2 linked regions of the Homo sapiens genome follow. The protein of the gene in region 2 purifies or fractionates together with the protein of the main gene of each other region. This does not show direct contact. Each region holds a gene or a part of one and is shown on either strand. Other genes may lie near its edges. The genes, in order: PTPRC and SEMA4D.

Evidence for each region.
Region 1: the proteins of SEMA4D (region 2) and PTPRC purify together in Homo sapiens (affinity purification with western blotting; 2 studies listed by BioGRID and IntAct, with this or other methods). This does not show direct contact.

What each region holds. Positions count from the first base shown.
Region 1 is NC_000001.11:198,743,837-198,759,116, reverse strand, and holds the end of PTPRC (receptor-type tyrosine-protein phosphatase C isoform 1 precursor), read right to left. Parts: intron 15,064-15,280; coding exon 14,914-15,063; intron 11,009-14,913; coding exon 10,918-11,008; intron 9,702-10,917; coding exon 9,568-9,701; intron 8,626-9,567; coding exon 8,491-8,625; intron 6,869-8,490; coding exon 6,746-6,868; intron 6,524-6,745; coding exon 6,345-6,523; intron 4,849-6,344; coding exon 4,713-4,848; intron 3,212-4,712; coding exon 2,936-3,211; 3' UTR 1,641-2,935; downstream 1-1,640. UniProt on the Homo sapiens protein: Protein tyrosine-protein phosphatase required for T-cell activation through the antigen receptor. Acts as a positive regulator of T-cell coactivation upon binding to DPP4.
Region 2 is NC_000009.12:89,375,634-89,390,913, forward strand, and holds the end of SEMA4D (semaphorin-4D isoform 1 precursor), read right to left. Parts: intron 13,415-15,280; coding exon 13,239-13,414; intron 13,160-13,238; coding exon 13,003-13,159; intron 11,976-13,002; coding exon 11,753-11,975; intron 10,850-11,752; coding exon 10,734-10,849; intron 10,473-10,733; coding exon of another isoform or gene 10,314-10,472; exon of another isoform or gene 5,795-10,313; intron 5,714-5,794; coding exon 5,541-5,713; intron 5,466-5,540; coding exon 5,422-5,465; intron 3,997-5,421; coding exon 3,071-3,996; 3' UTR 1,602-3,070; downstream 1-1,601. UniProt on the Homo sapiens protein: Cell surface receptor for PLXNB1 and PLXNB2 that plays an important role in cell-cell signaling. Regulates GABAergic synapse development. Promotes the development of inhibitory synapses in a PLXNB1-dependent manner.

The sequences.
Region 1 (15,280 bases), on a different chromosome or scaffold from region 2:
AAATTTGTGTAGGAGATTGAAAGCATAGCCTTTTCTACTCATTTTAACAGATATTCATTTCCTTTGAAGTGATATATTTTAAGGTCTTCATATCAAGAAACATGCTGCAATTAGCTAGGAGCAAATAGCATTCACTTATTCAGATCTAATATGGTGTTATGAAATCATCTTATAACCAATATCTGGTATAAATCTAAAATTAAGATCAGTCCTAGTTAGTTGTAAAAATAAATTTTATGTTTAATATTTTAGAGGGAAAAAAACAGGAAAATTTCTCTGTACAAATATAAGAATTCTGAGGGGAAGCTTAACGCATTTAAAATTATCTTTGCAAAGACAGATGTTCAGCTAATCACTTTACACAGTTTTCCTCTTGCAAGAAAATATTAAAATATATATATCTCTTAAATGAAAATATTTATTTGTCACTTATGTACACAATTAATAGCTTGGGACCTGAAGTTTAGGCTTACTAAATGTATCTTTTATTCCCATTGAATTCTAATACCAGGAATAAAGCAAACAACTTTAAAAGAAACCTAGAAGTTTCTTTTTGCCCAATAAATGTAATGTTCTGGATTCATAACATTATCCCTACAGTGTACCAGGCTTTTGTAAGTCAAAACTTTTTGCTTAATATTTCTGACTGGATCCTAGAATTAATAATGGCAGTGCCAAACTTTAGCAAATAAATCTTTTATACCTTGTAACAGATCCCCATTAATGCAACCCATGGCCATAGACATAGACCTATAATTCACATATTATTTCTTTCTACAGGTAAAAATCATAGACATATAATTCCATGTTCTAGTGCCATGGGTCTCACCTTCGGTTTAGTATATGTTCTCACAAAGTAGTGGGCTTTCTGAGCCACTATTTCATCTCTTTCTTTACAACAAATTCCCATATGTAGAAAAAAAGTCTCAAGCTTGATTCTTAAACTAATAGAAATTATTATTGCTCTATTTTCTAAGTAGTTTTTAATCTTTCAAAAGATAGTGTCAGGTGGAAAACACATTTAAAACACACAACTACATTTGGAAGATGTTACTTGCAATTGAAACTTCTGAAGAAAAACTTTGCTTGTAGATTATTTAGACTTTCTGCTATTTGTATTTTGAAGCAATTAACAGATAAAGTAGGCATACATCATAATGTTCTATTGAACATGAGAACTGCAAATTTTAACTACATTATCTAGAAAATGGCAACTGATCAAGTTTCAATAAAAGAAAAGAATGCATAATAGTTTGAGTGACTGAAGAGGTAAGTGAAAGCAAACTTTATTTTTTGTGCCCATAATTGGTGATTCTAATCCCCTTTTCTCATTAATAAGTAAAGATGTAATAAGTAACCTTAATATAAATTAGAAACTGTGGCTTCATTGTAAAATTTACTTCTTTTCATCTGTTAAATAAGCACAAGGATCTATATACTACTATAAGGGTTAATTGTTAATTTTATATGTTACAATAGTGAAATAATTAGAAGTAGGGACACAAAATAAATGTGAGTTGAATGGACAATAATCGGTGCTGTATAGTTAAGACATATAAAATCAGACAAAAGAGTAAAGATATAGAAAACCAAACCAATCTAAAGGTTGTGTTTGACCTTCATGATAAGCTATTACAGAATTCACCAAAACGAGTTTTTATTACTTCATGAAAAATACCACTATTCTTGATTTTTTTTTTCTAGATCTTAAACAATTATTAGACTATTGGATAATTGGGGCCTGTAAAAGTGTCCTGCAAATGTTAATAAATGCATTAAACATATTTCAATAGGTGCATACACATTTCATATTTGAACATATAACACAATGTATTATAAACAAGAAAAAAATAATGGTTGAATTTTATTATGATTAGCGACATCCATTCCTGGTAAAAACATTCTAAGCATTGGAGAAATTCAAAGTAAATGCTTTAATGAAAGTTATGAATGGGATTTAACATGGGAACTATGCATATGCAATATCATATTTTTCATATCAATGAAAAATTCCATAAAAATAGCTATATTAAATTTCATATGTAAATATTTAACAAATATGTTTGTATTCTTCTATTTTTATACAATGAATATTAATACATATTGCATTTATTTATTTTAATGACATTTATTTAAGTTCAATTGTACAAAACCTAATTTGTTGTCAAAAGTATCAAGCAATAAATTTTAAATATTGTACAGGGAATAATCGAGCATGCAAAATTGAAAACCCCATGTAAAGACAGCATGATAAGCTCACTGGAAATTTTTTAATTAAATAAGCTTAAAAAGACATTGGACTAAATGCTAATATATGGAATATAAGATTTCCCAATGTTAATTTAGTTAACAACTTTTTTGTAGTAGCATACACACACATACCACCTTTATGTACTATCTCTAGAAGTAAAATAGTAAACTATATAAGATAGATATATATGAGTAGAACAAGGAGGACATCTTGAGGTCATTTCAGAAATGTACATGATTTTATTGAGTCTGCACACAGTTTATGATTTTTAAAAACAGATCCTTCAAGCTAAGTTAACACTTCTAATATAAAATGTATTTTTTCTTCATAAAAACAAAGGAAAAGCAAAAGCTTTTAGATTCACTTGAAAGAATTCTCTCTCTTTCTCTGTCTCTCACACAAACACACACCCATACACACATACATATACACACATAACGATTACAAAGAAGTTGTTTTTTACTGAATAAGAGATAAAATTTTAAAATAAGCATACGTCTGTACAAACTGTTCTGGCAAAACTATCTTAAATATTTTTCCACAGTAGTAAAATATAACCCTTCTACAAATATTGGTTCGCTGCATTTAATTAATCCACTGTATACCTATTTTCACTTCCTACTTCTACAAAAATAGAAATAACAGCTAACAGGAGGTTTGGAGTTTCCTCATTTATGTCTTTTCCTATGAACCTTGATTTAAAGCTGGACTTGCAGGACCATTGACAGAATGTTCTGGCCCCTCAGTGCCACTCGTGGGTTCAGAACCTTCAGCCTGTTCCTTTGCTTCAGGGAGCTTTTCTGGGGCACCAAGTGGATTAACACAATTAGCATCCTGCTTTACTTTGTCCACTTCATTATCAAATTCAATTTTATCTTCTTGATGGTTGTTTTTCTTTACTTGTCCATTCTGAGCAGGGTAGGTGCTGGCAATGACGTCATATAGGAATTGATATTGCTCCTAGTAAAGGAATTAAGTGGGAAATTACATGAAGAAAGTTGATGTCATTATTTTTATGCCAGATGAAGATTAGCAAGAACTAATGATTTATTTGTGGAAGTATTGGATGACAGAAAAGTACTTTTTGATATGTTCTCATAAAAACATCTAAATAATTTAGTTTCTTTATGGTGCTAAAGGGTTGACTGCAGGATACTTTTTGAACTTTACCTTGGAGCAACCCCAAACCAGTGTTCACTCCGCTCATGGGCCATTTCCATGCCTTTGCTCATGATGCCACGTTTTGTACTTATCCTCCTGTCTAATGCCTACACATTATTTAAGAATCAGGGCAGGAATCACTGCTTCGAGAAGCGTTTCTTGATTCCTAAAGTTTAAATTAAATGCCCTCATTCATGTTCTTCTTATAATTTTTCTGTCATTTTACTCACTACATTGATTAGTAAATACCTGGCTTTCCCTCATACCAATTAGCTCTTTATAGCAAGAGCACATAGCAAGCATTTGATACATTTTTAAGTACCAAGATATGAAATCTCAATATCATACATGATTAAAAGCTTTATATATTTTAGTGAGTAATTAAGTTTACACTGTGAATAAGGATTAATTCCCAGATGACCATCTACAGTTACTACCACATAGAGGGTATACACGATAGATCGATTACAAGAATATAAAACTTATTTTCCTTCCTGTATCCACATTTCTTTGCAATGTGAATTTGCAGGCCCTCTCAAGAAGTGGAGTCTATTTCCCTACCCCTTGAATCTGGGCAGGCTTTATGACTTATTTATTTGGCTAATAACATACAGAAGAAGACATGTGTGTCACTTTTAAGCCTGGGCCTCAAGTGGTCTCACACAAGTCTTCTTTCCCTTGTGGAACTTGCTGCTTTAATGTGAATAGGCCTGGGCTAGTCTTCTGGATGAGGAGGGACATGTGGCCCACTCACTGTTGTTGCCATAGCTAAATGGCAGCCACATGCCAGCCTACTGGCAGTGTAGGTCACTTTAGACCAGCCAAACTGTAGGGCACACATCAGCTGAAGGCAGACACATGAGTCAGCCTGGTCTCTATTGCCTGAGCCTGAGGGCACCAGCAGAACATTCCAGCATATCATTAGACTACTGAACCATAATAAATGTTATTTGTTTAGGCTCCCAAATTTGGGGGTGGTTTGTTACACAACACAAATCGATACAGGAGTGAAGGAAAGAAAATTAAGAAATTCATGAGCATTTAGGGAAAGGCTCTTCATGAACTGTCACAACAAAGTGCTAGTAAACTTTAGGCTCTTATTTAGACTTATAATAATTTAATGTGAATTATCATGTAAAAGTAGAAAAGCTAAAAGAATAGGAAAGAAAATAGAGAAGAGAAAAGGAAAGGGGAAAAAAGAACAAACGAGAGGAAAGGAGAGGAGAAAAGAAAAAAGGAAACCGTCAAAAAGAAAAAAAAAATTCCGAGCATGTTAAAAGCAATGGTGAAGGATACTTACGAATGTGGAAACCATGCCTGGCCTAGCTTTGCGTAGAGCTTTTACCACTTGAAAAATATCCACTACCTCTTCTGTTTCCGCACTTTCTAAGAGATTTAACAAAGCACAAAATATTCCCGTTTGCTGAGATCCATCCCTATAAAAGAAAGAAAAGATAGAAAATAATCCTACTTCTCACCAAAAAGGGTGATATTAGAATAAAAACAGGAAGAGAGAGAATATATTTTTTGCTTCATGTTTATCATAATTATCTTATTCCAACCTCTTTCAAGAACCAAATTATTTACGCTAAATGCATTTTTAGGCAAATTTTTCAATTTAAGAGTGTGATAATCCTGGAATTGAAAACTTATTTGTCTTCGACTTTACAAATATATTTTCTTTTATTTAGTATTTTATGGATTTTAATGCATTTTTATTTACATCTGAAGTTGTTGAAACCAATATCAGAATGCCAGTATGATAGATAAGGAAACCAAGATTTGGAGAAGAGAAAGCTGATGTAATCAGAAATATTAGACCTAATATTTTGTAAATTACTAGAACACATGCTCTTCTTCACTCTTCTGCCTCTCTACCACGTTTCACAAATGTTTTCACTTCTGCATCAGTAGAAAAGTAATACCTAGTAGAATTATTCACTAAAAAGAGGGCAATCAAATAGTTTACCAAACAATGAGAAGTATAAAGCATTATCATAAAGATTCAATTTAAACAATATGTTATCAGCAGGACACTTTAGTTATTGTACATAAATCATATTCTAAGAAACATATATAGTTTTACAGTGTAAACTTCCCTTCCTCAGCTTTCTTTCCACATAAATGCTGAAAATTCATATATTTCTTAAGGCTTGATTCTAGTATATGCAATTCCAATAATAACAATTAGACTTTTTCAAAAATTCCAAAAGTTTTTCACTAGATAAACATTTCTCATTTTACTTTACTATTTTTCGTTTCTCATTTACTTCAATATTCTTTTTCATGTAAACTTTTATATTATATATCTTTCTTTCAATTATATTGCTTATTTAAGGTGAATATGTAAGCACCTATCACAGATGAAGAAACTAATAAAATCTAGTAGTATTATTGATATTACCACAATCTTTGCCTTTGGTTCAGTTTAGAAAATTAAATAATGAGTTTCAAATCAAAATTGCTAAGCTTTGTGATTTCAGTTAATATTTAACTTAAAATATGTTTAATAAACTTTGTGTTCATTAAACATATTAGGTGTCTTTGTGACACCTAATAGAGTAGATCAATGTATATGGGTATATGTGTAAGGTGATACCCATCTACCTATCTGTTCACACACCCTTCCATTCATTAATTCATTCACACAAATGACATTCCTGGCTCAATGTTAGCTACCAAGGAATCAAAGATGACATGACACCAAGTATTAAAAAACACAACTTAAAATTATTGCACTATAATATAATCACTTCTATTATATTTCTACAATAGTTGTGTTGTGGAAACAACCAAGAGAGTGACCGACTCCATAAGAAGTTTTTACTGTGGTTATGTGTTTCATATATGAGGATAACTAGATAAGACAACATGTGAACCGAGAAGTCAAGCATTATGATTTTGAGAGCACATTCTACCAAATCCCACGCACCTGCAGTGAATGAGTAGAGGTGTACTCTTGTGATGCTTGTTCCCTTCAGAGGAATTCTTCTGGGGAAGTTTTTGTTTGACGACCTGAATCATAGAGATTAATTCCTTGGGTTCTGCAGGAAGCTGCTCCACACTCCAGTTTGTATATTGGTACTGGTACACAGTTCGAGAGTCTTTCCTCTAAAATCAGAATTGAAGAGAGCATTAACTGGAGTGAAGTTCAGCTTATTTTCTAATTTGATAGTCATATTTTCTTCACAGTTACTTCTATTTAAATAATTTTAAAATGTTATTCTGAAACATTATTTATATGATGGCCTTGCCTGCATAGAGTAATTTATATTCATTTTGCTACCAGATCCATTATATCAAAGAAATATACTCCCCAAATTGTTTCCATACCTTGGAATGTCTCAGTTCAAAGACACGAAGGGTATAAGTTGAAGATTTGTCTGTGTCTTTCAGGTCAACTTCAATATCTCCATATGTTTGCTTTCCTTCTCCCCAGTACTGAGCACAGATTTCCTAGATAAAAGAAGACAATTCAACAATTTGTTTCCTATTTGAAATATGCAAAGGATCAGTCTCCCTCTTTCTCCCTTTCTTTCTCTGTCTGTGCCTCTTTTCTATTAAATGAAAATTATTGTGTTCTAAAATTGAAACCTACTTATAAAAATCCAGAATCTATTTAAGTGCTGGCGACCCATTTAATAAATATGTGGTGTTTCCTTGTGTAAGAAAAGGGAAGCTGAGCACAATCGAGGTGACTGGGACACCCCCGGAACAGCTGTTTTCCTTAGTGTAGGTCTTTGAGGTTTGCTCCTCTTTTCCACATGCTTATCATGACCTCTTCAATATTTATGGCTGGCATGAGTCAATGTTATTCATGACCCTTTCAATAACTCAGGTCCCACTGTCCCTTCAGTGGTTCTTGAGGAAGGAGGCTGCATCTTTTGGAGCTTTGTCTCTGTCATCTTGTTGACCAACACCATAAGCAGCTTTATATATTTTGTCTACATAGCTAAGGAAAGGGCCAGATTGAAGAGTAGATGAACCACAAAAGTGTTTCTTCTTACTACAAACTGTTGTCTACCAACTACAACCCCACAATTTCTGACAAAGACAGGGAGTCCTGCCGGTACTTCCATCCTGTTTCCCAGCTTTCACAATTTATATGAAGGAAAGGATTGTGGGAATTCCATGCTAGAAATCTGGACTTATATTCCTTTAAAACAAAAAACATAAAAAGCAACTTTCCATGTACAGGGGAAGGGGACCAGGTGAGGGTGAGAAAGAGTGAGATTTAGGGGAGAGAGAGGGGCATAAAAAAGCATAAATCTTTTGCATACTTATAAGGTTATTCACTGAATAGGCTTGAACATATGTCAGATAATGTGGTTGGTGCTAAAGCTGAGTGAGATCTACCACCAGGGAAATTTTAATAATAACTGAAGACATTAAGAAAAGGATAAAATATCTGTCACAAGCATTAAGTAAAAAAATCAAATTATAGCTTAGATTCACCTTCAACTATAGACTTTTATGGCAATAAATATTATATGGGAATAAAGAAAGGATGATATAGATACATTTTTCAGGAGTTTGGTCTTGTTAAAAGAATAGGGTCAAAACTGGAAGACAGCACACATTTAGTTACATGGAATATCAATAAGTTTAGACTCAGTGATGACAATGCAAATGGCGTGTTTAGGCTTGGGCATGAAACCTGCTTGTCCAGAGTGGAGAGGATGGAAAACATAAAAATGGGAGGAAGATGAAAGACACATGAGGGGGTGATTGTCCAGGGTGCTGGATATCACAAAAAGATCTTGGCTTTTATCTTGAGAAAATGAGGAAAACAGCGTGAAAATGTAGCTGTTATTTGCTGTGACGCTGACATTGCTGCATCCTGGCTAATCTGTGAGCAGCATGCAAGACTGGAGGGGACAAACAGGAGAGACTGTCAGAATCCAGACACAGCTGATGGAGGCCAACACCAGGGTGAAAGGGGTAAGACTGAGCAGACAGAATTATGTGATGGAGGGATAAAAAAAGACGTGGGTATGGCGATGAAGCAAGCAATCCAAGACTAGAGAATGACGTTTTATGACAGAAAGGCTTAAAAGAAAATCCTCAAAAGTACAAACCTGGTCTCCATGTTTCAGTTCTGTCAGCATAACAATAACTTTGACTTTTCTTTGGAAGATCATCTGCCAAAAGTCACCAATGGTCTCCTTCAGTGGTCCCTGAGCAGCAATCATCACTTCAGGTTTCCAGTAGCTCTTTTTAGACAAAAAAAGGGTGGGACTTCGTTACTACAGAAGAGAGCTCAGTAGATTCTTAAAGTAACCATTTGGAAATATAGTCAGTTTGATATCAATGCTGTTACATACAAATAGTAATATTCTTATGTTTCTTACAAGAAACAATGTAATAGCTATATGTAAAATAATTATACAGATAATAGTAATTCTTAGCTAATAATGTGAAATCAAGATTACAACATATCTTGCGAAACAAATTTTCCTTTCCACAAAAGACACACATTTTTGTTTCTCTATAAAGGTTAATGTGATTGTAAAAAGGAATTACTTAAGCATTTCAAATTACCTTCATCGTGTCTATACTAATTTTAATTAGTGTCTTTACATTCTTATTATATTTCCTAATTAAACTAATATTCTATGAATGTGTGCTTTAGGAAACTTTGGAAAATAAGTAAATCCAACAGTGTATAAATAATAAATATTTAATAAATGACTAAAGTTTCATTGTTTGAATTCTCAGTTAATTAAAAAAGTGGGGGGATATGACACAGACTCACCTAATAATTCAGTTTATCTGAATGAAAAGTTTCTAACCATACAAATATACAAATTTGTCATTGCCTACAATTTGGGTATCTGAGTATGTATAAACATTTTCAAATACTTGTATTTGCTCAAATTTTACTATTTTTAAAATTGATGTGATTATAGCTATATTTGTCATAAAATATAACCAATAGCATTATCTTATTTTGTCTCAGGTTATTAGGTTATAGTATTTTTAAATCTTTCATTAAGTTAAATTGTAGCATTGAAATTGAAACTCTCATGTCAATCTATATGTAGTTATGACCAAGCTCATTATTCTTTTATAAAATCGCTTAATGAATGGCCCTAATAACATAGATATTATTTTAAAATGTTTGGATCTTGGGTTTTGGCAATTTAAGTACCTACCATTATAAAAGATGCATTGATGTATTTGCTTGGTTCCTCTGAATCACTGTCATCATCAGAGGATTCATCTGAATCATGCTCACTCTCTTTACTCATTTCCAGCTCATGTTTAAGTGGCACTCTGTTATAGTCATCTATGTGAAATAAATCAGTAGTAAGTCTTCCTTGAAAAAATTAAATTTCTTCTTCATTGTCATGTGGAAATTTGAAAGTATTTAAAAAGGGACAGATTGTATTATGAAAACTTACTGATCTACATGAAATAAGATCCTATATAAAATTCAGTACTTGTCGATAAACAAATTATACAACAAAAGTCTAAGAAAAAGGATTCCAGGAAAAAACATGGAACATAATTCCATGTCAAACAACAAAGAGATATCATATCATTATATATGATTATTTAATCTTTGATACATATACTTTAATTTCCCATGGACTATTATAATTCTGCTTGATATAAGTTTACAAAATACATAGCGTAGATTTTTTCCCTCAATTATACTCCAGTAATATTAAATTAACAATCTTATATGGGTAGCTTTGATTAATTATTTAGCCCAGAAAATTATTTGACCTATAATTTCTCACTGTTTCTTAATTTCTATAATTTATAATAACTTGGTCAAATGATTTGATTAACCATATCACCATCAATTCCATATTTTAAACTACATTCATAAGGACTCCTATGAAAATTAACTAGGTCAACCATGCACTGATCTGATTTATTTGGTCATCTAATTTATCAACTTGTGTTATATTTTATCCATGCTAATTTTAGTTTATGCAGCTGAATAAAATTACCATATGTGATCATTTTAATATGCTTAAATAGTAGAATTCAAGTATTGAAACTGTGCATATTTTGATCTGTTAAATTTGAAGATTTAGAATTTATAGAGTATTTTCCCCTTACTTTCAACCTCCCAGTTATAAGGGATAAAAAGGAAACATATAGAGAACAAATGGATGTAATTTTTACTATTTGTCAATTACCCTGGAGTAAATAACTGAAATAAACTAAAAATGAAAGAAAATGGGTAAAAGAGACTTGCTCTTTTTTCTCCCAGCTTTATATATTTCTCTTTTATGACAACCCATTTCTGAAATAATTGGTAAAAAGAAAACACTGAATACAGTCTACCCTCCAAAGCCCATTGTAAATGTTCAGGATTATAAGTTCTTGCAATAACTAGTATTTTAATACCTAGTAACTTCTTCCCTATTAACAACCAAATGTTGAAAACTTGCTTCAAGATAATTTATATGACTGTGTGTCCCACATTAAACAAATCCAAAAGAGCTTAACTTTATCTGATACAAAAAATAAAAAAATAAACTACATACATGGGATGACATTAGAATTCCTGTTTTTACTTTTATTTTCTTCTTGATTTCCAATGTGCTGTGTCCTCCAGCTCCTATATGAAGGAAGTCTCTGAAAAAAAAAAAAAAAACAGAAAAACTCCTTTAAAATGTAAATATTGGCTTATTGCATCATAAGATGCTCCCTAAGGAAAAGCATTTCATTAATTTTTGTGAAATTTGCATATGCTCCCTATAGGCCATAATTTTTCGGTTTGCCTCTGATTTTTTTTCTTTAAATTGCTCAGGCATTTAGTCCTTTTGACAGGGCTAGTATGCACTAAAGATATATATGTAACAGACTATGTCTCCTTCTTCAGAGCTGCTTGATAGAAAAATAATATAGTTTGTTCTTATATAAATTGAAACCACTAGACCGATGTTGATCTATATTGCAAAAGCAATGGTAAGTTATTTTAAATGATCAGAAATAAACTTTGGAGACAACACATTCTTAGGAGACTTGGCACATGTTTTGAAAGTTCATTCTTAATTTGTTTACACCTTCCAGATTGCTTTCCTCTCACCCACAGTTCCTAATTAGTCAGAAAAGATCCATCATTTCTATACACAAATCCTTTTAGTTTTCTTTCTTCCTACTTAATCCAGTCTGCCTTCATTTCTCGCTTGTAAAACATCAACAATTTCCTAACTGGCCTCTTTGTCTTCAATCTCGCCTGCTCTAATCCTTCTAAAACACAAAACAGAAGATGCTCTTCTGAAGATGAACAGCTTTCCATCACTATAAGAGGACAACAAACCTCCTCAAAATAGCATAAAAAGTCTTTATTGATACGCCCCTGACTGTTTCTCCAGCCTTACACCTTACTGGGTCCCTCAATACTTCTACCAAACCAGCTTCCTCAATTCTTGGAAGGGCCAAGCTGTTCTTCAACTCTTGGCACATAAACACTTTTTTTTTTTTTTCTTGCTTGAACTACCCTTTCCCCTTTTGGTTGCTCTAATAACTTTTCTTACCCTCTAGGTATCAGTTTAAATACCAATTTCTTCTGGAAGACACCCCTGCCTACAGTCTTTCCACTAGTCCTTAAATAAGTATTTGTCAAGTGAATAATATTTAATGATAATAGATAATGTTACAAATAACTGAAACTGAGAAGGCTCCTCATGTACAATTCGGTAAGATTTTATATACACACACACGCATGTAGATACGTGTGTGTATATAGACATATATTTTTTCAGCATAGTACCCTCATTCAAACTAATTATGGCACCCTGTTTCAAACCTCATTCTTTGCTACGTAATTGAGTGAAAGAAAATATCATCACTGAATTTTAGGCCACTTGAACACCACCATGAGCTGCATGAAGGACCAGATGTTTTGGAAACTGTTACAACACCTTGTGCTCTTGTGAGTGTAGTCACCGAGGCAGCCTATGCCCTGTAGCAATACTCAGGATTATAGGTGGAATTAATGGCTCACCTTCATCTAAGACACAAAGGATCTGTCACTCTTAAATCTCTACCTGTTTCACTTGCCATCACAAGTCTAAGCTTCCCAGTGCATCCACATTCCCCAGATTTTTATTCCTGAATGGTTATTTGTATCCTCAGATACAACCCAGTCTCTTACATCTAACCCATCAGTGCCTTCCTCCCTGCCCTCTGATGCCCATCGTCTGTCATCTGTGAACTCCCATTTATCTTAATCATCTTCTCCCAACAGTCACTTCACCCTTTTTTTTTTCTTTCCACCAATTAAAACCTGGATGTCAGCTAAGGACACCACCAATAACTCAGCAGCCCTTTTAAGAAAAAGTTGACTTTCCTCCTCACACCCCATTTACCTCACAGCTTCAAGAAAAGATACGTGTTCTCCTTGATCCCTGATTCTACTTGCAAACCATTTCTACTCATTTGCTTTCAAATCAACCAAGCACTTTGATATTCCTGCCATCATACTATACTAGCTTCTATCCACCGGCTTCACTGGGAAGTGTCAGGTATTGATTTCTGAATCACTCCACCTCATTTAGTTTTAGGCTTGGCTAAGTATATTCTCTTCTTTCCAAGGTCTGTCATCATTTTTGGTTAATTCAACATTGACAAGAATAATCTATCCAAGACTCTAGTCTCTTCATTTCTTAGCTTCTTCACCTCCCATGACTTTCCCTCCACTTCCCAGTCATCCACTTTCATCATTCCACCTTTGTAGGTTTCATTCCAAATATTACATCACCTCTAAAATCATAAGTTCAACTATCTGTGCTATTGAAAATTACCCCTATTATTCCTAGTCATTTATTCTGATATGTTCAACCTAGCAATCTGTAATTCTATCAAAGTCTCCAACTTATTATCCTTACTACTTTCTCTCACCTCCCTCATGTGGCCAATTTGCTTTTTATTTTCCACCTCAGTCATCATTCATTTGTAAACACCCTCAACTCGTTTGCCTCACTATTTTCAAATAGTCACTTTTCAAAACCTAGATAGGTTTAACTCAACTATCTGCATACACAGCCTCTACCCCCAAAGAGCTCAATGCTGCCATAGAAAACAATACAACCAACTGACTAATTCCTCTTTAAACTTATAATCATAAATTTCAGGTGATCAAATGATAACTTCTGGCAATCTTACTGCCTCTGCCTAGGGAGATTGTTTTTATACTTTGAGGTAACTAGTTTATACCCTTCAAGCATTGAGCTCTTCTTTGCCCTACTCGCCCTTGTATCTCTCAACTCTCAACTGATGACCTAGCCTCACATTTTCTTGAAAAATGAAAGATCATCAGGCAAGAGCTGCCTCAACTTCCCAATACCAAATTTACCAACCGACTTGCATTTCTACTCTCATCTTCTGTCTTACTGTCTGCTTAAATGGAATAATTTCACAGCTTCCATCTGTGATCTGGATCACATCCTCTCATCCTTCTTCCCATGTCCACTTGCAGATCATTTTGACTCTTGTGCCTAGAATTGTACTTGGCACATAGCAGAAACTCAAGCACATTTATTTAGTGAAAAAAATTGTCTGTCTTTTCTATAGTAAATAAACATTCATAAGAATGTTTAACTTAAATGTATAACTGTCTCTAACAGCTTATGTGTTTATGTGGATTAGTAGGGCAGGTATATTGAATAAGGTTAATTTATCAGCTAGAAAAGCAAGAAAACAACAATAAAACACTACTCTGTTTGAGACTACCCTGTGTCTGCTAGTTCTTCCATTATAAGTACAGGTCTTCTGGGGGATTGAGTCACTTGGTCATTATTGCATGCTCCACCTCCACCCCCACCTTAACCCCACTTTGATCCTAAACATTAAATGGTTCTGCATGTGATTAAAAGCACACTCCTGGTCTTTAGAAACTCTGAATTTACCAGTTTGGTAGATTATGGAATGACTCAGTAACCTGGAAATCATAGGTGGAACAAAAAAAACACAAAACATTTTTTTGACAACTGAGCAATTTGAGGACAGCTATGCAAACTCTCTGAAATTATAGTGAACTACATGCTAGGTTAGCTGTGAGAATAATTGCCTAATAAATAGGTTAAGACACATGTACTTATCCTTTACTGTGTGTCTACCAGCTCCAGCCAGTTCAACTTCCTAAGCAGTCATAAACTCTTCTAATGATTTCCTTTACAAACCAAAACCAGATACGATTTTTAAAGGTGATATGCTGTATTGCCTTTGGCAGACCAGTTTTGTGGCTATATACTATTATTTTGACACTTCATTTTATACCAGCTTAATGAGGAATGGCTAAAAGTATTAGCAATAGAATCAGATTTCTGGGTCTAAAGAAATCTCCTATGTAATAGTTGTGTAGATTCAGGCATTTCTCTTAACTCACTGTGTCCTAGTTTTCTCATCTGTGCTCCTTTGGTTCTGGTGAAGACTAAATGCAAGCACTATGTCAAGTGCATAGCAAACACCTAGAAAGTAGATGACACTGAATAAAAGTTATCTGTAATTATTATTATTGTTGTCACTATCATTACCTGGAATTCAGCCTCTAGTGGAGACGGCTCACTGGGTGGATCCCTTTTCTTCATGTTATGTAGATATGGATGTAATTCAGACAAATTCACTTCTGTTTCTCCAAACTGATTGTATTCCACCAAAGCCTGATGGATCAAGATGTACTGGGCCTACAATTTCAAGAACAAATACAGATAGTTAACTGATAATCTAGAGTCCTCCAAGTCATATTTAAATAAAATATACATTCCCCATAAATTTGCTCATATTGGAACAATTCATGGCAAAGTAAATTGATATCTATAATATTTAAATATTCTGGAAGTTCACTCTCAGAGTTTTCTGGAATATGAGCAAATTCTATTTTCAGATTATTTTTTCAGAAAA
Region 2 (15,280 bases):
TCTAACAGGCCACTTCCTTTCTTTCTGTATCTACTGATCAGTCAGATGACAACACAGGGGCCACCAGGGCTACCACGCACTGCCTGAAGCACAGGATACATCTTTGAAGTGTGGTTCTGGACATCTACTATCTTTCAAGAGCAGATATCCCATCCGAGTATTTTCCAATCCAGGGCAAATGCCTCCAGGTCCCAGAGGAGTACACTAGACTCTCAATCTTTTCTGTTTTTATAATGATGATGATTTTTGAGACAGGGTCTTGTTCTGTGATCTAGGCTGGAGTGCAGTGGCACCATCATACCTTACTGTAACCTCAAACTCCTGGGCTCAAACAATCCTCAAGGCACGTGCCACCAAGCCTGGTTAGTTTTTTTCACATTTTTGGGTAGAGATCAGGTCTCGCTATGTTGCTCAAGCTGCTGTGAAACTCCTGGCTTCAAGCAATCCTCCTGCCTTGGCCTCCCAAAGCAGGGGGATTATGCCCGCCAATCTTTTCCGCTTTTAAATACCACGAAGCAAGTCATTAAAACAACTCCCATTCTGGAAGCTCTTAATTTTTTAAAATTTCCAAATACCACGTATATCAACCTCCAAATTGTTAGCAGAAATAGAAGCACTCTGGCTCTGGAGGCTGAGGCAGGAGGATGGCTTAAGCCCAGGAGGCAGGGGCTGCAGTGAGCTATGATTGTGTCACTGCACTCCAGCCTTGGTGACAGAGGGAGACCCTGTCTCTTGAAATTTTTTTTTTTTTTAAGGGAGAAGCAATCCTATATACCACAGGTTGGGAAACTGGGGCCTTTGGGGCAAATCTGGCCCACCGTGCATTTTTATAAATAAAGTTTTACTGGCACACAGCCCTGACCACTCGTTGTGTATTGACTATGGCTGGTTTTACAATACAACAGCAGAGCTTAGTGGCTGTGACACAGCCTGCAGCCCACAAGGCCTAAATATCTAGCCCTTTACAGAAAACACTGGTTGACCCCTGTACACTAGAAGTGGCTTCACACTGTCTACAGTTTCCCTCGGGATGGACCCACAATGAAAGCGTGAAACGGCTCAACCCGAGGGACGCAGCCAGGACAGATAAGGAAGGTAAAGGAACATGTGGAGGGATGTGGAGGATGCCCCCGCCCGCCCCCCACCTGTGGGAGGAGACAGATGGACAGGGCACAGGGGACAGAGAGGGCCCAACTCACCTGTGGCCTGGCAGAAGAGGTAGAAGTTCCCCAGGGCGTGCACGTGCTGTGCCTGGTCACTCAGGAAGGGCGGCAGCAAGGAGACCCTCGAGCTGCTGTCGGGCCCCGCACCCGAGGCTGGCCAGGGGGTCCAGGGAGAGGAAAGCCTCCTGTCCCCCACATGGCCCAGACAGGACAGGGAAGAGGAGCCAGGAGGAGGGAGGGGCTTAGGAGACGAGGCTGTGAGACAGAGAGGACAGAAAAGAGAGGGCACTGAGGAAGAAGTCGCCAGGAGCACGTCACAGGCCAGAGAGGGCAAAACACAGCAGGAAACGGACAGAAAAGAGCGAGCCCAGCTGTCCCGCCTGGGCCATGCAGGGGCGGGAGGCTGCACAGCCTCCGCTAAGGAATGTCTTCCCCAAATCAAGGATAGAAGCTTCTCATTTATTTGGGTACTTTCCAAATGTATACAATTCAAAGTAGAAAAATAAAAACAAGGTAAATCTTATAAAACACAAATGTTTACACCAAAATGGTCAAATCCTATCATGCTGGAAGATAAGACTGTCCACACACGCGCACAAACATCCAGAGTTTATTGCTCTTCACCATGGAAAAAAAGTCTCTTCCCGATGGGTATTTACAAAGCGGGGAGATGGAGTGTGAAATTAACCAGTGTTGAAATCGTACCACCCATTCACATCTTCAGGACAGTGGCAGGAACAGCGCCGTATGCTTGAGGGTGCTGTGGTCACAGCTCGCGGCCCCGGCCACCGAGGCCCAGTTCCCTTCCAGTAGTGGGCAGCTCAGTGAGGCTGGATAGAAAGTCTGGGCAGGCAGTGGGTAAGCAATTGAAGCAAGAAGAGAAAGGAGATGTTCAGAGAACCAAAGGCGCCCTTGTGAAGGTTCCATCTGTCTCACAGGAGGTTCTGACCGACAGCTGTGGGCTCCAGATTGTACCGCACTCCCATCTCAGCTCTGGGCCAGCCTGGCTCCACTCAGCTCATCCAGGCTACCTTCCCTTGCTCAAAACCCACCTCGTGGATGTGGGAAGGTCCTCTTCTTCGAGAGAGTAAAAGTTAAAAAAAAAGAAAAGTAAAACGAAGTACAGAAAGAAAATCTCTCCAAAAACAATGCTTCCCTCAAGGAATAAAGTTAAAAAAAAAAAAAGAAAAAGAAAAAAGGTGAGTGGGCTCCGGGGAGTGTTTATGTCTACATTTCTAAAAGCAGAAAGAATGCATTTAGCAAAAGGAAGTTTATCCCTGAGAATCTTAAGCAACGTAAGCCGTATTTTATGCCAAATATATAACAAAATCTGGAAGATATACATCTTCTTCTAAATATTAACACAACTGCTTCTGTAACTAAAAAAAAATGACCCATGACATAAACACAATCAAAGCAAAATCCTAAAAAAATAATTAAGTGGAAGAAAAGGTTCGTGCCAATCTGGACAACAGGCGATAAGTTACCAATCTGATAAACTAAAATGTCATTTCCAATCTGGAATTAAATAATCTTTTAGTGGCTGCTACGGGGAGGGGAAGCTGAAGGGATGCTCTTCTCAGCCAACAGAGGTCCAGCCACCTTTCCCCCACTACAGAAAGGGCTCAGGAACTCCGTGCCGCCCGTGGGCCTTCTTCAAGTACTCCGACTGACTTCGGAACACAAGACTGGGATGCAATGCTTGTCATTTTTCCAAAAGGACAAAGAGAAACCAAGTCACAGGCTCAACCCAAGAGAAAATAGACAAGAGGACTGAGGTTGTCTGCACGATGCGGGCTAACCTACGCAGCACTGCACGAGACTCGGATACTGAACAGGAGAAACACAAAACTCTCCACGCCTGGACACGTCGCAGCCGAGGCACCAGCGGGGATGCACAGCCGGCCTCAGTCTCCATCTGCGTCTGAGTCAGCGAACTTCAGCTCACACTTGACGTCAAAGGGCTTGTCCCTGGCAGAAAGGTCGTCGATCCTCTGTGAGTCCTCCCTATCCGTGGGGACTTTGCTGGTGATGGTGTCTTGCTCGGTCTCATAGCCGGTGTCCAGGGCTGGCTTGGGGTGCTCCCCATTCTGCTGGGAGAAGCTCCCTGGCTCTACTAACGTCTCCTTCAGGCTCTGCTCACGGTCACAGAAATCTGACTTGGGCTTCTTCTTCCCAATTAGTAGGGCCGAGCGGAATTTCAAGCACTGTCTGGGCAGGTATCCCTTATAGCAGTTGTAGAAAAAGAGGCAGAGGAAGAGAACAAAGAAGAAGAGGAAGAGGGACATGAGGAGGCGGTTGTCGCTGGACTTAAGATACATGGTTTTCTCCGAGTGGAGCTGGGGGACCGTGTTGATGACGATCTTTGGTTCGCAGGATGTGCCGGTGGGCGCAGGCTTGGGAGGAAGGGTGATGGCCCCGGAGGAGGTGGCCTGCACGGCTGGGGTTGGGGGAGAAGACCCTTGGGTGGATGCCACCAACACTTTGGTGGCAATCCTACTACCTTCTGTCTGAACAACTGACAAGGTGGGGGCCACTACGGGCTTTGGAACCACCTTCACTTCCAGGACGTGCTTGGCGACCACTTGGAAGACCGTTTTGTTCTTAACCCTCTCCTCTGACAGGCACTGGTACACCCCACTGTCTCCTTCTGACAAGTTGAAGATGAGCAAGTTTTTTCTGCCCATAAGACCGTACTTGGGGCTCTCGGCCTTCAACACGCCATTCTGGAACTTCCAAAAGACCCGGGCCAGGTTGGATTTTTGGGAGCATTTCAGTTCCGCTGTGCCACCGTGCTTGAAAAAATGCTGCCGGTAACTTCCTTTACTTTTATCTGGAACATCAAAATAAACGTGCACAGCGTCAACAATCCCCATTTGCTATTTAACAACTTCTTTAAAATACCCACAAGATGACGCAAGAGTTTCACCCACTGTAGCAACATGGAATCTTCCAGAACAACTAAGGAGATAAAGACATGCGTGACCAAAAAGCAAAGATGAGCCCTGGATGACAGCCCATGGGGACAAAGAAATTGGAGGCAGCTCTGAGCAGCAGAAATCCCATTTCTCACCCGTGTCCCAGAAGAAAACGCGTCAGGCTGGGGAAGCTGAGCAGAGGCCAGTTCTGTGCCTAGTGTCAGCTCTTTGAATCAGACACGAGACGCTTCTGCTAATGGCTGCAAGGAAGACTGGCCTTTCAGTGCATCTCAGCACTCTCCTCCTGCCTAAACTTTTCTTTTTTTTCTTTTTTTTGAAACAGGGTCTGGCTCTGTTGCCCAGGCTGGAGTGCAGTGGTGCAATCACAGCTCACTGCAGCTTCAACCCCCCCAGCTCAAGGGATCTTCCCACCTCAGTCTCCAGAGTAGCTGGGACTACAGGTGACCACCTCCAGGCCTGGCTAATTTTTGTATTTTTTGTAGAGACAGGGTCTCACCACGTTGCCCAGGGTAGTCTCGAACTCCTGAGCTCAAGTGATCCTCTTGCCTCAGACTCCCAAAATGCTGGGATTACAGGCATGAGCCACTGTGCCCGGCCAGCTTTTGTTTTCTTTTTAGAGTCTGGGTCTCACTTTGTCACCCCAGGCTGGAGTGCAGTGGCATGATAAGCTCACTGAGCCTTGAACCCCTGGGCACAAGCAATCCTCCTGCCTCAGCCTCCCTAGTAGCTGGGACTACAGGCGTGTACCACCATGCCCAGCTGCCTAAACCTTTCTTAGTCTGATGACAGCTGTCTTGTCAGGGTCAGGAAGACACAGAACTGAGGGTCAAGTCTGCCTTTAGCACCCTGGAAGGTGGCTGCTGGGGAAGGGGCATCTGGCCTGATGCCACCCCTCCCTCTGGGTGTGGTGCTATTTCAGACATCCACAGGCGGGTGAATCCCAGGTGGGAGCCCCAGGGGAAACACCACCCCAGCCCTTACACTGCCTGAGGATTAATCACTCATGGGCTCCTTTCTCCCCATTTATAACAGGCTTAGGTTTTGCTTAATGAGCCCCAAGCTAAGCAGAAAGAAAACAGGATGGTTTTGGAAGGAGACTGCTTCCCAGTAAGCAGATACACTCTAAGTGGCTTCAAGTACTCTTTCGGCAAGAAAAAAAGACAGAGAAGACCACGAGTCTGCTACAGAACACTTGACCTCTGTTCCGAGTGGAGAAAGAAAAACAAAACACACACAAATGCCACAGAACTGAAGCACCGTGAAATGGCTACAAGACCTCGCCACTCCCAAAGGAAATGGGACGTCGAGGAGTCACTCACCCGGGCACACAGAAGCATCGCCGCTCATCTCCTGAATCAAACCCCTGCAAAACAACCGGCACGTGTTATTCACCCACACACATGGGGGACATCCCCAGGCAGCGCATCCCGCCCCATACCTGCTGGGGCTCTCGGTCTGGTGCAGAGCCACGCAGGTCGCTGTGGGCGGGCTCCAGGCGCAGTAGGGGTCCCGCGCCAGCACACAGTCCTCGCAGGTGCCGTGCTTCCCACAGAAGGCCAGCGGGGCCTGGACCACGCCCGAGTTAGAGCCAGCATAGACAAACCTGTTGCCCTGCGTGTATGAGACAGAGAAGAACTAGCATCAGGCAAGCAGGCATCCAGGAGCATGGCCTCTGCTTCTGCACCAGTGTGTGGGAAGCAGCCAGAGTGTACCTTCAGGGGACATTGCAGTAAGGAGGAGAGGTACTCAGAACCAGAGGCAAACAAGGCAGGTCTGTGACCTTCCTGCAGAATCCACGTGCTATGTCAGGGCTCACTGGGCCTTAGGTCCAAATCCCTCTCTCCCCTGTCTGGGCACCCACAGGTGCCTGCCCTCCAGCAAAGCGCTTCTCTGCACGTGTTTCTCTTAGCCAGTGGGGAGGCTGTTCAGTCCCCACCTCCAGATCTCCTCCCTGCAGCAGAGGATGCATGAGCCTGGCACTCCCGGTCATCTTCCCGGCCTCACTATAGGTGAGAAGGGGCTGCAGCCAGAGGCTGAAGCACACCACCTCGAAGCCCAACCTCGTCCCCCGAGCCAGAATGTGAGCACCTGTGGGCGGGGAGCCTCTCGTGAGGGTCTGGATCCAGCAGAGGCCTAACATAACAGGGATGCCAAACGGACGACATGCAAAGGATGAGGAGATCGTGATACAAAACATAAAAAAGGAACAATGCCTTTTGCTTTTCACTTATCTATATGTAAAAGGGAAGAGCTCACAGACGGGAAGTCAACCTCCGAGCTCCAGAGCAGCCACACCCACAGCAGAGGGCAGGTGAGACTCTCCCACCTTCTGGGACACTTGGTTCCCAGTGACACCAGCTTCAGGTCCATCCCATCAGCCCACCTGGCACCAGCAGTGCCCAGCACACAGGCATCCAGGGCTGCTGACTGCTTTTGAACGGAACTCAGCTGGAAGGAGGGTGCCCCACATGCAGTGCACCCACCTGAAGCTCGGGGGCGTGCAACAGACCTGGAGGTGGCCCGTGGAGCGCGCTCTCTAGCCTCTGCCCAGGGCATCTGCCTCAACAGCCTGGGGACACCTTTTGGTTAACAATACAAGATTCCCAAATTTACACATGACTTAGTGGTTTACAGTCAGATGAAACACGACCTTCATCCTCAGAGGATACGCTCGGAGTCAACTTCAGAGTGTGGTTGGAAGATCACAGGCCCTGATGCCAATACAGGAAGCCCCAGGCCACACATCCAGCTGTGCGGACACAGACCCACGAGAGAAAGGGAAAGCCCCCAAGGATGGAAACTGTGATAATACACAGCAGAGGGAACCTGGCCCGCCGCTGGCCTCACAGCAGCAGCAGCAGCAGAGACCTGGGCAGATGAGGCCATGTGTGAGCCACGTTTGTGGGAAGGATTGAGGATGACATCCCAGATCACAGTTCGGGCATCGCGCGGCTTGTGGAGGTGGCGGAAACATTCTCTGGCAGCAAAGCCAAGCTGGGTAACTTCCAAGGGACAGCTGGTCCTGTTGGGTCCCGCGGGGGGCACCTGCGAGGTGGCGTGAACACCATGCAGTGCAGAGCAGGGTGCCCTGGGTGGCCAAGTGGGGCCCGCCTGACTCCTCACCCCAAAGAGAGGCTTGAGGGTAGCTGTGGAGGGTGGGGTGGGCTCTGGGGGGCAAGGCCTGTCCCAAGGGGATCCAGACCACCTCCTGCACCCTGCGGGAGACTCAGCCCCAGCTTCCGCTTCTCCCGGATGGGGCTGGGCTGCAGCCCAAATGAAACTAAGCTGTAAAAACTAAACGACGCCACACAGAGACCAAGGGATGACTGTGGAAGGGAAGAGGGGACAGGGAAGGAGGAACTGGTCGTCAGGACAGCCAGCTGTAACTGCTGCAGGCAGGACCCACTGGTCGATGTGGATGTCAGTGGGTGGGAGAACAGGGCATTTCTGTAGCCTCCAAGTCTGTCCCTGCAAATAAGCATGAATGACTGTGGGGGTTTCCCACATGACTCCCCTGGGAGGTGGGGCTCACTCTCCCCCACCCCCAGTGTGGACTACATGCCCCGACACACTCGACATGGAAAAAGACGGTGGTGACTTGGACAGAATGACCAAGGTCATCACGCTGGTGCGAGTCATACAGATGCCCCATCCCCAGAAAGCGCCCTCTTTGGTGCTCCCCCTAAAACCACGACCCCAAGATAATCACAAGAATACACCAGACACACCACAAAACACCAGACTACTCCTCTCCAGGAGTGCTGAGGTCAGGGAGGCAGGAACAGAGCAGAAGCCGAGGAGATGCAGTGTCCAGTGCAACCTGAGGTGCTGAGCCAGGAATGTGGTGGGCGGGAGGTAGGAGGGTCCAGGGTCTGGGGTTCAGGTAACGCACTGCACCATGACAGCACCTTGGCTCAGATAAATGCACACTGGCTATGTGAGACATCGGACATGTGGAGCTAGGTGGGGGCGCTCAAGATCCTTCTGTGCAATCATCAAAACTCTTCTGTAAATTTAAAATTATTTCAAGACAAAATTTTTAAAGGCAAAGAAAAAAAGCCTGACCAGGCACCTGGCAGCATGAGTGAGGCCCGCTGAGAGCAAGCCTGTCCTGTGCACTCCTGCCCCTCGACGCCCCCTGTCTCCGCCTTCCCTGGGCCTGAGGATTGTCCCCTTGCAGGCAGCTCTCATGCTCCCATCTCTGTCTCTGCTGCTGTGTGTGCGCGTCAGACCCCGAGGGCAGGTTGGAGTGACGGTGGACGTGATCAGAGGCAACTGAGCTGTCTAAGTGCCTTCCTTGCCCTCTGCCACGCTAGCTGTAGCTCAGCATCCCAAGGAGTCCTGGTGAAAATACAGACACAGCCTACTCGGTGGGCTCAGAGAGGGCCGAGCAAACCGCATCTGCTGTGTGCGCCCAAGGAATGGAAAGCAAGGACTTGAGGTATCTGCACACCCACGTTCACAGCAGCACTGTTCACAGAAGCCAGAAGGTGGGAGCAACCGTGTCCATCAAGGGATGAACGCACACACAAAATGCGGGACTCACAAAATGCGGTATTCACATACGACAGAGGAGTATGTAGCCTTGGAAAACCCTGACCCCTGCTACAGCAGGGAGGAACCTTGAGGACTTTATGTTAAGTGAAATAAGCCAGTTACAAATGGATAAATACTGTGTGATTCCACTCATATGAGGTACCCAGACAGAAACAGAAAGCAGAATGGCGGCTGCCCAGGGCTGGAGGAGGGGAAAATGAAGAGTTTGTATTTCACAGGTAAAAAGCTTCTGTTTGGGAAGATGAAAAGCACCCTGCAGACAGACAGTGGTAATGGCTGCAAAACAACGTGAATGTTCTTAATGCCACTGACGTGCACAATGAAAAATGGTTAAGACGGCAAATTTCATCTGATGTGTATTTACCAAAATAAAAAGCAAAACCCCATGCTTGTCATCAGGGGAGAGGAGGTGAGGGTGGAGGCACAGCGCACCTCCCCAGCTGTAGGACAGGGGGAGGGCGTGGTACTGGCCGTTTCTCCATTTGCTGATCACCGTGAGAGAGCCTGATGGGGTCAGGCGGCACAGTCTTTTTACCACTGAACAGCCACTTCCTGCTGCCATGGCCATGGAGCTGGGCCTTCCACCCCCACCTGGAGCCTACTGAGGCCCAAGGAGAAGGCACAGGACCCCACGGCAGGCAGGATGTATTTCCGCTTGTCCAGGCAACTAAGCCACGTCCCCACGAATGGAGGCTCCTACAGAGACAGGCGGGTCGGGTGGTCCAGTAGGACCAGCAAGCGCTTCCCCAAACCCACTGGCTCCTCCTCCTGGGCGCGAGGCTCCCTGTGTGGCCAGCTGCCCTGGTGTGGCCATGTGACCGAGTTCTGGGAGATGGCGGGTGGGCACTGACCCGTAACCCCCTCTGTGCGGCCCTCCTCTTCCTACCCCCTTCTGCCTTTGAGGATCAGTGCCCATGTGCCCTGGAAGCCTCCACCAGCCTGGGTCCCTAAGTGACCCTTGGAACAGAGTGTCATTCTCACGAATGTCCACACCAGGGGCCCAATCTTCATTCTAATGAGAAGTCCACATTTTAGAGATGTTGTAGGTGCCTGCCCAGTCTGGCTGAGGCCACTGAACAGCACGATGGCCCCAGAAGAGCTTCTGGGTCCCCTTCTTTCAACAACGAGGCTGGGGTGAGGCCCCACAGTGGCTAAAGCGTCGACCCTTCAAATCTCCAGGGCTCCCTTTGTGTCCTGGAGACCGAGAGGCTGGTGAACAGATGCCAGTACCCAGTGGCTTATAACTTGCTCAGGCTATTTCATTCTCTTTTCCTTTCAGATCTGAGGGAGAACTCTCCATTAGCAGAGGGGAGGTGACCACGTAAAAGGACCCAGGCTCCCAAGCTTTGTGGATACAGGGGAGGGAAGAGGACAGAAGACCTGGAGGGGTGTTTGCAAATACGCACCTGCCAAGGGTAGGTATCTTACCCGGCCAGACAGGGGCCCTCTTCCTCTGCCTGTTGCTCCCAGCTGAGGGAGGAGAGGACTGACTGGGCCTGGATCCCACAAGGTGGTTGGAGGTCCCGTTAGGAGCCAGGGCCAGGGAGGCAGCCCCCTAAAGGCCAGCGTGGATGCCCGCCCACCCACCCCTGCCAAGGGCTGCTTGGGAGTATTGCAGGCCAGACCAGAGTCTCAGCCACAGGTGGAGACAGCTTTACAGATGAGACGAACCACTTCTCTTGTGGATTTTCCACGGTGACGAGTCAGCTGTATCACTATCATATCCCACAGATGCAGTCTGCACACCCCCCAAGCTCAGGGCATAAAAAGGTGTCTTCATGGAGCAGTGCCCACCTCTCCACAGCCTGTAAAGCTGCACCAACAACTCAATGACATTCCAGCAACTTCGAAGAGAAAGTCCCGTCTCCCCAGGTCTGCCTTCCTGCCTTCCCCAATTCAGATCCCACAGCTCACGGAATGGCTCTGTGTCAAACTCTGAAGGTTGGCTCACCCAGGGCAGACAGACAGAGGGGCCTGCCCAGGAGCCCGACTCCAGCTTGCCAACTCTCCTGTCACCTAGAATCAAAGCCACCGAGCGGAGAAGCCCCCGGTCCAGCTGCCTGCGTCACTTTACCTTCTTTGAAGACAGCAGCAGGGTCTGGACTGGCTCAAAGTCCTGGAAGAGCTGGGTCTCCTCGATGATGTGAACAGCGTGCTCGAGGCTGATGGCTTTGTGCAGAGCTCCCCGGTCTGCAGGGCCAAAGCTACAGGTCAGTGACACTAACCCAGACACAGAAACCAAGGACAGTGACCACAGCGGCAAACTTCACACTCTTCACTCTCAAGTCATTCCCTCCACAGATACTTAGAAAACAATGATGATTTCGCATTAGAAACAAAAAAAGGAAAAGGCTTTGGCAAAACAGACAACTGGAAACCCAAGTGTTATGGGTTATTCCAGTTTTTTTCCAAGGAAAATAAACTGTTCCATGGTTGACCCCAAGAATCCTCACCAACAGTCGACATTACACTTGAGGCTAAGTGCCACATGAGGGGGCTCCCATGCTCCACCAGCCCTCGGGGTGTCACTGGTAAGTGCCCTAGGCAGGCGGTGAGGACAGGGGGCATGTGAGGTTGGCTGGGAGGCTCCAAGGGCAGGCCACAATGCGCTGCCAGCCACCGTGGCTCCTGGCCCCTGTCCCTGTTCCAGAAGTGCTTATTTCAGAGTCCACATGCCAGGGCACATCTAAAACCTGGCTCCTCGGCCAGGAAGCAGGGACGTGGTCCTCTGCCAGCAGTCAGGAAACGCCAGGCTGACGCCTCCTCCCAGGTGGCTCACACCTGCCCCCTGCGTGGGCACTGCCCCAACTCCTCGGCGGCCAGTACTCCTCTGCCCCAGCCCAGCCCAGCCACAGGCCAGGACTTGCATTTTTATTTTTAACAAGTACCTCCAGTAGCCTGGTGGTCCCAGATCTGAAAGCCACCTGGTGTGGTGACTTCTCAGAAATCTTCTTACGCTCCCACAAACCTCCCAGGTCACCTCGAGGGAGGCAATGGAACTACTCACGAAAGAATAATTGGATTTCCCAGTTTTCCTACCAGAGGACACAGATGTGCTGTCACTGTCAAGCCTGCCAAGCCCTCGGAACCCACCTGTGCTGACAAACATGACATCATAGACAGTCCCATCCAGGGCCTGGGTCCGGTCCACCACGATCTGGGTGTAGTTCACATCTTTCTTGATTAACCTGGGCCTGTTGTCTATTGGGGTTACCGAGTCATCCATCAAAGGGTGGTCTTTAACGAACTGCAGCGTCTTGTCTGGCAAATTCAAGGAGCTGGTGTAGTTGGCGGCCCGTGCCTCGCTGTCGATGCACTGCAGGGAGAAAATCCCCGCTGTTAACGTGCTCGTGTCCCACCACGCAACGGGTGCTTCCACACAAGCAGCCAACGCAGGGGGGGCTGCAAAACCTGGAAACCACACAATGCATGCCTTGAAATGAGGGTAGCAGTGAATAACTTTACTATGAGGAAAGGTGGCCTCTCCCCAGCCAGCAGAGGACACAGTTATAAAACACATCTGCAAGACAGAATTGCATTCACGATACATACTCAGGGAAGGAATTTTTATCTATTTGTAAGTGAAAAACACTTATTGAGCTTTTGAAATTAAAAAACAGAACACTGATTTGCAGCTTTCTCATGAAAAGAATGCTAAACATGGCTAAAACCAGGACAATTTAAAATAGCATAAGAGCCTGAGGGATTCTTTTTTCCTGTTCTAGCTCCCTGATGTGTGTAAACCAAAATCTGTGACCATGAGTGAACACATTTTACGAAGCTATGCATAGAAGGAGCCATGATGGTGTCAGGGACAGCTGCCCTTGGGAGGGAGCTGGTGCTGCAGTGAACTCTGAGGGCCAGGACACCCCATGTAGGTCACAGCCCCACAGAGGGCTGTGCACATGCCTGTCACACCCATTTCCCCATGTGAGGGAAGGAATCGGCCTGGAAATTCCCAATTTCTACATAAAGTTCACTATATTTAGGAGGAAAAAATGTGACTCCTGTTGACTAGTGGACAGTGCAGAGGCCTTTGCCAAGGAATCATGTGTTTCTCTGTAAGAAACTGAAAATGAAACAGACCTAATTGTTATGCAATGTTAATTGTGCAAAACAGCTGCCCCAGCCTTCTTGTTTGTGCAATAGTGTAGCAATGGCTGTTACGTAACATGCAAAAGGGAAGAAGGATGAGCTGTGCTCATCGGCCGTCCCTGTCCCAATGCAGAGAGCCTTGGCGTGGCCAGGTACCCAGCCCATGAGCAGGCCCCAGTGCCTGTACTGGATTCCATGCCCTGGGCCTTGAAGGGAAAGCACGGCCCGCCCCCAGTGCCCCAGCTCACCGCTCCAGGCCGCGGCTTGGGTACCGGGCCATTATAGCGCACCCACTTGGTGTGGGACTGCTCCACTGTGGTGCTCTGCATGTACTTCCCGTGGGAGAAGACCTCCTCGGCTGTGGACAGGTTGTAGGCGCACACTGCCGACAGCCCCACGTTGTTCCTGGGGAGGGGAAAGAGGTGACGGGACCACCTGGCGGCATCAAGGGAGCAAGGAGGGGGACTCCACCCAGGGCACTTACAGCTGTGGGGTGAAGAGTGCATAGAACACAGGCACCTTCAGGCCCGGGGACCTGAGCACGAAGACATCCCGCAGCACATTGAAGACCAAGCCGCTGTCTGGCCGGGAGCAGATGAGTCGGGCTTTCAGGAAGGAGGTCCATTTCTTCTGCAAGGTCCTCAGGCCGCCCTGGTCCCCCTAAAACCCCAACAAGAAGACGTGGTGGGCCGAGAGTGGATCCCCTGTGAGCAAGCACTAAGGTCAGAGGTGCACCCCTCCATGGCCCAGCACAGCGCGGCTGTGCCTGACTGAAACAAAGCTCGGGCAACAGGAGACAGATGCCGCAATTATGTGAGTGGCCCGCAGCACCACGTCCAGGTTCCAGCTTGGATCCCAGAACGCTCCTGGGTTAACACACAAAACAAAACGGACAAAAGCCCTCTCACTGAAAGCTCATTTGATCGTCCATGCCTGCCTGTGCCCAGCATTCAGTCCTGCAACCGCAGAGGTGCTGCCGTGCTCACACACTTCCAACTGCCAAGGCCCCTGGCATTGTGTGACTTTCCTGACATAGGGCCCATCAATGAACATGCTCTGGGTGGGGCAAGTGGCGGCAGCCTCCTTCCAGGGGACAGCCACCGGCCCTGCAGCCTGTCTTGGGCAAATGTGTGAACCTTCCTCCCTTTAAAGGAATAGATCCTTCACTTCCTTTCTACCCAAAGTATCTGCTAAAGTGCTTTGAACCTAAGTTCTTTATAAACGCTTTTCAGGGATCCGATGACCAAGACACAATTATAAACTACACATGACTGTGTGTGGTCTGGAGAGAAATACTGAAACCACAAAACCTGAGTGCAGAAGAATATGAAATAGAAGCAGCCTTACTTATTTTGGACACAGGGAAAATGTTCCCCCTTCATCTCTGCTGTGTGATTACAGGAGCCCAAATTCTCTTTTTGATAAAAGGACTTCATTTTCCTCCTTGATGTTTTAGCAAAGAATAATTTCTAGCACATTTTTCGTCAGGGGTCTCATGTGGCTTTCAGGTCACGGGCAGCAGGTGAAGGGTTCATGTGTGCCTGCGTGGTAGGCAGGAGCTGTGGGGCCTAAGCTCAAACCACCCTAGTCCAGGAGTTCAAACAAGTATGGGGAAAAAAAAGGGATCAGAGGGGATGACAGCAGTGTGCCTAAGACTTGTAGAAACTTGTCGGGGGTGGAGGTGGCTGCTCTGTGCATCGCTGAATCTGCTCACTGATCCTGCTGCAAACCCTCAGTGCTGGGTAATAAGTCAAGGTCAAGGCAAGTCTGATCCTTGGCTTCCCGATGGCAGGGGAGGGCTCGAGTCCCCTGGCCAGTGCTGCTCTGACAGCATTCTGAGCACTGTGCACGCCTGCCAGGAGCTCTGGCCCTGCAGCACCCTCCCCATCTCAAGGGGCACTGGCTTGCCCCCAACACTGATACTGTTGATAGGATGGTTTCCTGGTCTGCAAGACAGGAGCATGGCAGCCACGGCTGCGGGGCTGCGGGGCAGCTGGAGGATCTGGTCAGTGAGCCCTGGCTACGGAAGGCCTGGGCAGGGAGCAAAGCACCAGGTGGATACTCAGGTGTGCACATCACCCAACCTTCTTCCTTATGCAAGGGGCTGTTAAGGGAACGGTGTCAAAGGCACCCACTTTTGTGCGCCATAGGCATGAAAGGAACCCTGCTTCTCTGATGTCCTGATGGTCATGACTACATGAGAAAGGGCCACGCAAGAACTATCTACCAATTTCCATGAGAGACGAATGGCTACCTGCTCCGAGATGAGCTCCTGGCCAGGGACATGGCGGCTGTGTTTCATGTGGTTTCCCCCAGCTCCCCTGAGGCCTGACAATCCACCTCCTGGAAACTGCCACTGAGCAACCTTGAGATTTCCTGTAATCAAGCCCATAGGCCATTCTCTTGTGCTGAGCACTGTGCCTACAGTGTGTCATTTTAAAGGCACCCTCCCCTTTTAATGTACTTAAAGATTTGTGTTTTGACAAACTTCTGTATTGGTTCTCTCTTCTTAATCTTAAGCTGTCG